3 linked regions of the Homo sapiens genome follow. The protein of the gene in region 1 interacts with the protein of each later gene in a pairwise test. Each region holds a gene or a part of one and is shown in the gene's direction. Other genes may lie near its edges. The genes, in order: GAD2, DMKN and SCAMP1.

What was found.
Region 2: the proteins of GAD2 (region 1) and DMKN interact in binary tests that used the Homo sapiens proteins (3 or more experiments, as listed by UniProt).
Region 3: the proteins of GAD2 (region 1) and SCAMP1 interact in binary tests that used the Homo sapiens proteins (3 or more experiments, as listed by UniProt).

Annotation. Positions count from the first base shown.
Region 1 is NC_000010.11:26,300,239-26,303,892, forward strand, and holds part of GAD2 (glutamate decarboxylase 2), read left to right. Parts: intron 1-549; coding exon 550-723; 3' UTR 724-3,654. UniProt on the Homo sapiens protein: Catalyzes the production of GABA.
Region 2 is NC_000019.10:35,503,518-35,507,171, reverse strand, and holds part of DMKN (dermokine isoform 2 precursor), read left to right. Parts: intron 1-986; coding exon of another isoform or gene 987-1,046; intron 1,047-1,185; coding exon 1,186-1,233; intron 1,234-1,406; coding exon 1,407-1,454; intron 1,455-3,654. UniProt on the Homo sapiens protein: May act as a soluble regulator of keratinocyte differentiation.
Region 3 is NC_000005.10:78,423,001-78,426,654, forward strand, and holds part of SCAMP1 (secretory carrier-associated membrane protein 1), read left to right. Parts: intron 1-3,654. UniProt on the Homo sapiens protein: Functions in post-Golgi recycling pathways. Acts as a recycling carrier to the cell surface.

The DNA of each region.
Region 1 (3,654 bases):
AATTATCATCATTATTAAGGATTATCTTTCAAAATATCTTATAAAGTGAGGCACTGCAAAGAGAGAACGAAAAGAAACTAGAAAGCTCTGGGGTTTCAAGAAAGTTGCCAAAAGTCTGCTTATCTTCATATATCACCTGACACTCAAACTTACATTTTGGTAACAATCCTCTGAACTGTTTATTTCCAATGTTTTTACATTTACTGTGGGGGGAAAATGCCCCCAAACGTCTTGCTAACCCATTTAGCTTGGGGCCAATACTAGATTCATCCCATCCTCCCAAAACACTAACTGGAAAGTCAAGGACAAGGTGGCAGGCAGCTGATAGTCTATCACTTATTATTCCTCTTATCACTTGCAGGATCTTGAATGTGTTAGACTGTTCTAATTCTCTGATCCCAAGAAAACTTGGAGGTAACTCTTTCAAGAGAAAACAATAAGGTTCTGACTGTTGAGCTAAAAACTAAAGACGCTGCTTGCTGTTGGGTTCTTTGACTCAGGGGAGAGTCCCAGGAGAAAGTCACCATGCTGATATGGTCTGTCCCACAGGTGGCTCCAGTGATTAAAGCCAGAATGATGGAGTATGGAACCACAATGGTCAGCTACCAACCCTTGGGAGACAAGGTCAATTTCTTCCGCATGGTCATCTCAAACCCAGCGGCAACTCACCAAGACATTGACTTCCTGATTGAAGAAATAGAACGCCTTGGACAAGATTTATAATAACCTTGCTCACCAAGCTGTTCCACTTCTCTAGGTAGACAATTAAGTTGTCACAAACTGTGTGAATGTATTTGTAGTTTGTTCCAAAGTAAATCTATTTCTATATTGTGGTGTCAAAGTAGAGTTTAAAAATTAAACAAAAAAGACATTGCTCCTTTTAAAAGTCCTTTCTTAAGTTTAGAATACCTCTCTAAGAATTCGTGACAAAAGGCTATGTTCTAATCAATAAGGAAAAGCTTAAAATTGTTATAAATACTTCCCTTACTTTTAATATAGTGTGCAAAGCAAACTTTATTTTCACTTCAGACTAGTAGGACTGAATAGTGCCAAATTGCCCCTGAATCATAAAAGGTTCTTTGGGGTGCAGTAAAAAGGACAAAGTAAATATAAAATATATGTTGACAATAAAAACTCTTGCCTTTTTCATAGTATTAGAAAAAAATTTCTAATTTACCTATAGCAACATTTCAAATGTATTTAAATACATATAATTTTACAAAAGGAAAATATATATATTAAAAAAGATATCCTATTTTGTAACATATAGATTTTTATTTTATATAGGTTATACAAACTGCGGGGGCAGATATAAAATCTAAGCCAGATTTTTTTTTCCTTTCTCTTAATGGAGGCACAATAAAACACTTAGCAAAGTTATTTTGAAACATTGACCCACGAAATTCTTAAAAGGTATTATTGCTTCTTTCTATACATGTTATGGCTTATCACATCTCTAAAGTTAGTATTTCAAGACAAACACAAAAGAATACTGCGAGTTCTTTAAAATAATTGATCCCATTGGCAGTAAGATTCTCTTCCCCTTTAAGTTTTCCACCCATTTTACTCTTAGCGGACTCACTCTGCAAGCGTGACAAACCAGGCTTCATCTCAGATTAAATTAGGGTAATTGTCTCTATTCTGCTTTCCAGTTCGGCCTGTTTTGAACAGAAGGTTGATGCTAGTTCTTGAGGCATCTTCCAAATAGTATTCTTTTATTAGGTCATTTGAATTAATTAGAGAAAGTAAAAATAAAACCTTATCAGCCTGAGCAAAGAGGAATGAAGCACACTCCCAGAATGTGGTGAGCCCAGAAAATTAAAGTTGGCCTTGGGAGAAGAGATCTCTGTGGGACAATAATGACATCATCCTGGCGCCATATTGCCACTGTCCAGGAAAGAGAAATTTACCTCCAGGCCAGTTGCGCATTTCCATCCCCTCCCCATTCCTCCCCACAAAGTCTCTCCCACTAGACTCCCTACCACTGGGACCCAAAATAGTTACTTTATATTCCATGGGTGGTTGTTTTTCTTCCATGAAATGAGCCTCTCACCCTAGATTTTGAGGCATTATCTTAAGATTTTCCTTTATCCATCTCCCATCGAGATCCAAAGTGACCAGAATATGCAGAAATAATAAGATCCTTAGAATTCAAAATAGTATTTTTAAAACATCCTTCTTTCCCTGTGAACCTGATAGAAAAACATGAGCTAACAAAAGCTTCCATAGATATTTATGGGGTCACACATCGTCAGATTCCAAGTGCTGATTGGAGAACAATAGATTGATATGCAGACTGCAAATGCAAATTTAGGAACATTCTCCATTTCTGAATGGACCAGGTAGTTCAGTACTCAGACTGCAGGTATACAAGGGAAGAGAGAAGGCCCTGCCCTTCAACGGGTAGAAATGCCCTACAATATAACATAGAGAAATGCCCTATAATATAACCACAGGATCCAGCCATCTGAAATTTTCATAAGCTTCCCCCTACATTATTTCTCCTAGGCTATATGCAAAAACAGTGATAACTTGATATGAACATGGCTTTGGGCCCTTTCTGTCTAGAAAAACAAATGGGTTCACTATGACAATCAGAAATAAACTCTTTCATCTGTCCCGCAGAATTTCATGAAGGAGTAACCTTCCATTCTAGGCTTTGTCTAATGGCCAAGCATTAGACAAAGCATTAGAAAGCAGTTCCTTTCTCAAAACTGCCTGCTGAGAATAAGCACATAGCTGCCCGACTATCCGGAGCCTCAGGCCCAAAGGTTCCACTTCAGAGACAGAGATGCTAATTGATCCAACCTGCTGTCCTTCGTGGAGAAGACAGTGGGGCCCAGTGCCCTGGTGAACCAACCCTGCTGTACTCCAGGATGCTTTATCTTTTGAGTTACAGATCCTAGATTATAAACTGCTGCTTTTTAGGTTAATGAGATGGTAAAATTTTAAAGGACAATTTGTGCCTATATATGAAATTCCAGCAAAACAATTCTAGCAACAACAATAGCTCTTCTTCCCCGCTCCCCTACCCCTTCCCAGTACTCCTTCAAATTGGCTGAGAGCCTTGCTCAGGCCTGTGCAGGGAAATCCTTACCAACTGTAGCCCAAAGAAGGAAGCAAATAAAAGCCTAGTAGGTCCCAGTAGTTTAATAAATCATCTTGAAAGGAGATGTGGAATCAGGTCAGAAGAGAGTAAGGGAGGAAGGGAGGGAGGGAGGGAGGGAGGGAAGGAGGGAGGGAGGAAGGAAATGAAGGGAGGGAGGGAGGGAGGAAAGAAGGGAGATTATTTTTAATATTAGCCCAAATTCCCAGTGCCATGGTCTTTATGTGTGCCCATTCTTTACAAATCTTAGAAAAGTTTGGTTTTAGCTTTAATCAGAACTGACATGGCCATTTTCATTTATACAGCAATATTGTGTTTATCATTTAAAATACTTGAACAAACAAGTGTGATATGTCTTTATCTGAGACCTATACATGGTATGGACTTCATATACTGCCACAGGATGTGAGGAAAGAAAAGGAAATCAATTCTGACTGTGTTGCCTTTATTATCTGGATAATACTGTCTTGTCACCTCAGATTGGGGTTGTGCACTTTAGATCTGAACTGTACAGTGTTGCAAATCAACATGTGTTTCTGTAAAAGCTT
Region 2 (3,654 bases), on another chromosome or scaffold:
AGGCAGTGTTGAGAAGGAGAAAGTCACTGAGCTTTGAGGTAGAAGATGAGGTTTCGAAAGCCAGCTCTGGCCAGGCACCAGCATAACTGTAATCCCAGCACTTTGGGAGGCTGAGGTGTGGGGATCATTTGAGCCCAGAAGTTTGAGACCAGCCTGAGCAACGTAGGAAGACCCTGTCTCTACTTTTTAAAAAGAAAATAATAGGCCATGTGCAGTGGCTCACACCTGTAATCCCAGGTAGCTAGGATTACATGCCTCAGCCTCCCAAGTAGCTGGGATTACAGGCATGTGCCACCATGCCTGACTAATTTTGTATTTTTAGTAGAGATGGGGTTTCACTATGTTGGCCAGGCTGTTTTCAAACTCCTGACCTCAGGTGATCCACCCACCTCGGCCTCTCAAAGTGCTGGGATTACAGGCGTGACCCACGATGCCCAGCCTCAAAAAAATTTAAGATATATATTAAAATCACCACCAGCTCTATCATGTCATCTGTATATCTTCAGGCAAGTCAGCTAACCTCTCCGAGCCTGAGCTTCCTCCAGTAAAATGAGGACAGTGAAACCTGACTCACGCAGCCTTCAGTTACTGTACAGCTTTCCATGTCACCACCAGACCAAGGTGTTGTGGAGTCCAGACTCTGGAGACAGATGCTGCATAAGGCATGGTGCTTGGCGTGCCGTGGGACTACACGTTAGCTAATCTCATTTGCTTGAGGTGTTTTGGGGACAGACCAGGATGGAGGCAAGAGTCTGAATATTGAGATTCAGGGGACTGGGTGGGGTTCCATGGGAGCAATCCATTCTAAGAAAGCTTTCCCAAGTGAACTTTTTGGTGCTGTGTAAGGAAGAGAAGGCAGCTTTATAGAGAGGAGGACAGGAAGCCTGGACCGAGGTGGGGATGAAGCAATCCGGGGCAGGTTGACAGGTGGCAGGCATGATAGGAAGCATAAGCCTTGGACATCGGTCCCCCTTTTCCCCACCCAGGGGCAAGGGTCGAGCTGGGGCAGTGGAGGAGGTGACGCTGTTGGTGGAGTCAATACTGTGGTGAGTGGAGGCAACACTCCACCTTGGGCTGGGACCATGGTGTCACACAATCCTCGCCTCCCCTCCTGCCACTCAGATCTCCCGACTCTGGCTCACAAAGTGGGTTCTTCTCTCATCCCATATCTCCTTGGTTCCATAGAACTCTGAGACGTCTCCTGGGATGTTTAACTTTGACACTTTCTGGAAGGTGAGTTCTGCGAGATGGCTCTGTTCACTCGCATTTGGAAAACCAACCCCTGCCCTTGGCCCCACAGTCTGGGGTCCTCTTTCTAAACCAACAGTCAGCAGTGGCCCTTGACCTCTCTCGGCCAATTACCTTATGACTCAATTTGGCCATTCTTCTTTTTGTTTCCTCCATAGAATTTTAAATCCAAGCTGGGTTTCATCAACTGGGATGCCATAAACAAGGTAAGGGCTGGACATCTTCGTCGGAGAGGGCTATAGGGAAGAAAGCTAAACCTCCGCTCTGTGAGCTGGGGAAACAGTGATGCTGGCCACTGAGGAAGCATTTAGGCCAGTGCTAAAAACAAAAACTAAACACACTGGGGGTGGAGGAGGGAGGACAGAGGAGACCTGAAAAGAGGGGGAGAATCTGGAGCAGCTGAGATTGAGGTTGAGCAGAGGGGACGGGCTTCTTTGCTGTTTCAGCATATAGACCCGAGCAGGTCCTGAACCTCACTTTCCCCTTTGAGATGGGGAAGGTTAAGGGGAGAGTAGATTGACTCCTAGAGGGCACATGGAATGAGGAGTGAGGTGGAGCTAAGAGGCCCCAAGAGGAAGGGCACCCAGAGAAAGGAACCAGCACTGGCCGAGAGCCTCAGGGGTGACAGGCATTAGTCTCTCCCGCACAAACAAAAACACAGCTGGGGCGCAGAACCCCTCCCTCCTTCCTCCCTGCCTACCCTTCCGTCTTGCAGGGGAACCCCTGGCCAGGCTGCTTTGATACCTGAGTAGCACAGGCACCTCTAGAGTAGAGGGGGCTGGAGTGGAAGGGAGGGGAGGAAGGACAGGTGGACAACCCATGCAGACACACCCCCGGCAGAAGCTGCGATTCGTGATTGGAGGATGGGTTTTTGAGACACTCTATTTTTTTTTTTTTTTAAGAATATGAATTAATTGTCAAAGTTTAAACATGGAGAGACTTCACATAATGATTTGGATTTCTGGTTTCTTTCAAAAACTTTGGTAACACTGGGTTCCATTTCCATGGGGTGGGGTTAGGCTAGAGCTGAGAAACAGCTGCTGCTTGGCCCAGGTGGGGGGTGTTGGGAATGGGTGGGGGGGTCACTCCCTAGTGGCCAGACTGTCCCTACCTGTCACAGTCATTTTAGCCACCTGACTGGCCCCTGTGAGCAGTGGAGTTTCTGGCCTTTAATGTAAAAGAGAGAAGACTGGGCTCAGGAAAATCTAAGTCTGACCTTTTAGGAAGGAGATTGAGGAGACAGGAGAGTACAGATGTTCCCACCCAGCTACAGTGGATTCATGTTCTCTGTTTCTTTTCTTTTTTCTTTTTCTTTCTTTCTTTCTTTTGTTTTTTTTTTTTTTGGTGAGACGGAGTCTCGCTCTGTCACCCAGGTTGGAGTGTAGTGGTTCGATCTCAGCTCAATGCAGCCTCTGCCTCCTGGGTTCAAAATGATTCTCCTGCCTCAGCCGCTCCAGTAGCTGAGTTTACAGGTGCCCGCCACCACACCCGGGTAATGTTTGTATTTTTAGTAGAGATGGGCTTTCACTATGTTGGCCAGGCTGGTCTCGAACTCCTGACCTCCAGTGATCTGCCCACCTTGGCTTCCCAAAATGTTGGGATTACAGGCATGAGTCACTGCATCTGGCCTCTCTGTTTCACAGAGAACGGTTTCTGGTAGGAGCAAGACTCTTTCCTGGGTCACAGGGAACTTAGGGTCTGATGGGAGAGCCGGGGCACATACAGACACTTCCCAGAGAGCCAGGATAGACACCCTGCCAGTTTTGCCCATCTAGGGCGGCAGTCGAGGGAGTGATCGCAGTGAGGCAGGATCCATCTGGGCCAGCTCCTCAAGGGGCAGATCTCCTAGAAAGCAGGGCAGGGCAGAGGTGGGCAGGGGAGAGAATGGAGCCCCATTCTTCACAGTGGGGTGAGGGAGCTGAGGACTTCAGCCAGAGTGAGGAGGGAGCAGAGGGGAACGCAGTGTAATGTTCCTGACGATGCAGGGGGTTCTTAAGCCCAAGCCAGGATATCTGGGTTTGTTTGGATAGCAGTGGTGGGCAAAAAGGTCCCTGTAGGTTTCTGGAGCAGGGGTCTCTTATACCCTTGTGCTGGCTCACAATGCCCTGGAATTCCTATTTCTCAAGCTCTCTCTTAGAACCTATTTCTGGCCAGGCGCGGTGGCTCATGCCTGTAATCCTAGCACTTTGGGAGGCCGAGGCTGGCAGATCACTTGAGGTCAGGAGTCTGAAACCAGCCTGGCCAATGTGGTGAAACCCCATCTCTACTAAAAATACAAAAATTAGCCAGGCGTGGTGGTGTGCGCCTGTAGTCCCAGCTACTTGGGAGGCTGAGGCAGGAGAATCGCTTGAACCTGGGAAGCGGAGGTTGCGGTGAGCTGATATCGTGCCACTGCACTCCAGCCTG
Region 3 (3,654 bases), on another chromosome or scaffold:
AACACACGCGCGCGCGCACACACACACACACACACACACACACACACACACAGAGTTAGAAACCCAGATCTGTAAACAGATGAGGGAAAAACAGAAGAGAACAGGAGATGGGAGAACATTAGGGAATTTGGAGAGAAAATGTATCAGACAATGAAGAAGTAAATTATTACTTAGAAATGGCATAAAGAGAAGAAATGATGAGAGGAGGAGTGAAGGGAAGAAATGATGGGAGAAGGGAAAGGAGAAAAGAACCTTTGGATACATTGAAATATGGGAGATTGGTTGCCAAGGAACGGGGAGAGCTTCTCCTGTAGAGATGGGTTGGAGAGGAATGAAAGGAACATAGTTACTCCTTGCATGATCTGAGTTATTGCTGTTATTTTCTTCGTTATCTAAGCATGGCTCACAAGGCTTTTTCTGTTTTTTGTTAGTTTGTTTTGTTTTGTTTTTTTTGGACATCTAACCTCTGCCTAATGACCTCCATCACATTACCAATATGTTATCGATCTGTGATGATGCTGGCTGGTGGGAGTGAGGATATCTTTATGAAACTTTTCAAAAAAGTGACCTGAGACTAGGGAATTTGGATTTTAAACCTTCTGTTACTTATGTAGCCAAAATAAATGACTAAAAGCCAGCTTTGTGCCTTTTATTTCCTGAAGTCACTTGGTATCTTTTTTTTTTCCCCCATTTTGGCAGTTGAAATAAAAATGCTTGGTGGAACATTTTTACTTGTGGCATTATTGATCCCTAGGCTGAGTTTTTAGCTGCATCTCAGTCTTTTAGAGTATATACAAATATATTAATAATCTGGTTTTCACTGTGCAGAGTAGAAATGAGAGGAATACTTTTTTTTTTTTTGAGATGGAGTTTTGCTCTTGTTGCCCAGGCTGGAGTGCAATGGCTTGATCTCGGTTCACTGCAACCTCTGCCTCCTGGGTTCAAGCAGTTCTCCTGCCTCAGCCTCTCAGGTAGCTGGGATTACAGGCATGCACCACCATGCCTGGCTAATTTTGTATTTTTAGTAGAGACAGGGTTTAACCATTTTGGTCAGGCTGGTCTCGAACTGCTGACCTCAGGTGATCCGCCCACCTTGGCCTCTGCCCACCTCGGCCTCTGCCCACCTCGGCCTCCCAAAGTGCTGGGATTACAGACATGAGCCACTGCGCCCAGCCTCGAGAGGAATACTTTTTATGGGGAAAGTTGAATTAAAGTATTTATAATCATTAATATACCTTCCTGTTATGTATCTTTGGCATTTCCTTATATTGATATATTTACAGGACTTTGTTCTCCGTAAGGTAAACTCATTGTAAAAATCTCAAGGAAAATTATATAGTGAAGTTTCAAATGTATGTGTTTTTAAAAGTTAAGTTTATTAGGTATCAGGATTAAACATGAAGTTGTCATTTTGTTATTTATGTAGTTTACAAAGATTGTAACTTGGGGCTGGGCATGGTGGCTCATGCCTGTAATCCCAGCACTTTGGGAGGCAGAGGCTGGCGGATCACATGAGGTCAGGCGTTTGAGAACAGCCTGGCCAACATGGTGAAACTCCATCTCTACTAAAAATACAAAAAATTAGCTGAGTATCGTGGCATGTTTCTGTAATCCCAGCTCGAGGCAGGAGAATCGCCTGAACCCGGGAGGCAGAGGTTGCAGTGAGCCAAGATCGTGCTACTGCACTCCAGCCTGGGCGACAGAGTGAGATCCTGCCTCAAAAAAAAAGAAGAAAAACAACAAAAAAACCCCAACTTGGTCCTGAATTTTGTACTTCCACAAATCACTAGGCATTATGCAAATACATCAAAATATTAGGTAATTATTAACAAGGCAGCATTATTGTTGAATGTTGTTGAGTAACTATTAGAAACAGACTGAGAAAGAGTATTTGCATAATGCTTAGTGATCTTGGCTTCCCCACTTAAAAAGCTGTGCGGTTCTGAGCACATGCAGTAAAACTCAGAGCCTCAGTTTGTTAGGTTTAAATGAGGGATATTTGTAGAGTTGAAAGAAGGATTAGAGATAATGTATGCAAGTTTTGCATTATAGATGGTGAATAAATGGTAGCTGTAATTAATTTTTAACTTTTTTTGGACCCTCTTAGATTTTATCATTTACATTTTATGATCTATAAGTGAACTGTGATTTCTTATAGATTATATTTTACAGAGCCATTATTTGTAGCTTTGAAGACAATTTTCAAAGTAGTACTTTCTCCCACTTTTTAATTATGATGTATTTAATGCATACCAAAGAATACCTGAAACACAAGTTAAAAGGCATAATAATGAGTCATCTATGAACTGTGAGCCCACTGGTCAATTTAAGAAATGGAACATTATCAATACCGCTGAAGCACTGGTATGTTTCCATTTCCCTGCTCCATAGGTAACCATTAGGTTGAATTTTGATAATTTTTGCTCATTCTCTAGCATAATTTTAGTTTTTCATATATATTTGTACTCCCAAACCTTTTTTTAGCTTGTAGAGAATATTTTTAAAAGTATTTTAATATTTATAAAAGTGATACATCTTTGTATACAGGTTATTTTATATGCAGTTTTAAGTAGCTGTGCAAATACTTTTTTGGTAAAATAAAGACCTGTTTTAATCCTTTTCTACCAACAGTTCTTGCCGCTGACTTATGTGGGCATTTACCTTTATATTTTAAATAATGATCATATACTGCCATTCCTTGATTTTGTTTAAGTAGCTTTATTAGGATATATTGTATATACTATAAAATTCACCCACTCTTATGGGAAAATTCAATGATTTATTTTATTTTATTTTACTTTAAGTTTTGGGATACATGCGCAGAATGTGCAGGTCTATTACATAGGTGTACGTGTGCCATGGTGGTTTGCTGCACCTATCAACCCATCATCCAGGTTTTAAGCCCCGCGTGCATTAGGTATTTGTCCTAATGCCCTCCCTCCCCTTGCCCCCCACCCCTGACAGGCCCTGGTTTGTGATGTTCCCCTTCCTGTGTCCATGTCTTCTCATTGTTCAACTCCCACTTAGAGTGAGAACATGAGGTGTTTGGTTTTCTGTTCCTGTGTTAGTCTGCTGAGAATGATGGCTTCCAGATTCCTCCATGTCCCTGCAAAGGACATGAACTCATTTCTTTTTTATGGCTACATAGTATTCCATGGTGTATATGTGCCACATTTTCTTTATCCAATCTATCACTGATGGGCATTTGGGTTGGTTCCAAGTCTTTGCTGTTGTGAATAGTGCTGCAATAAACATATGTTTGCATGTGTCTTTATGGCAGAATGATTTATATTCCTTTGGGTACATACCCAGTAATGAGATTGCTGATCAAATGGTATTTCTGGTTCTAGATCCTTGAGGAATTGCCACACTGTCTTCCACAATGGTTGAACTAATTTACACTCCCAACAGTGTAAAAGCGTTCCTATTTCTCCATGGCCTTGCCAGCATCTGTTTCCTGATCTTTTAATAATCACCATTTTAACTGGCATGAGATTGTATCTCATTGTGGTTTTAATTTGCGTTTCTCTAATGACCAGTGATGATGAGCTTTTTTTCATGTTGGCTGCATAAATGTCTTTTGAAAAGTGTCTGTTCATATCTTTTGCCCAATTCAATGATTTTTAAGTAAATTAATAGAGTTGTGCAATCATT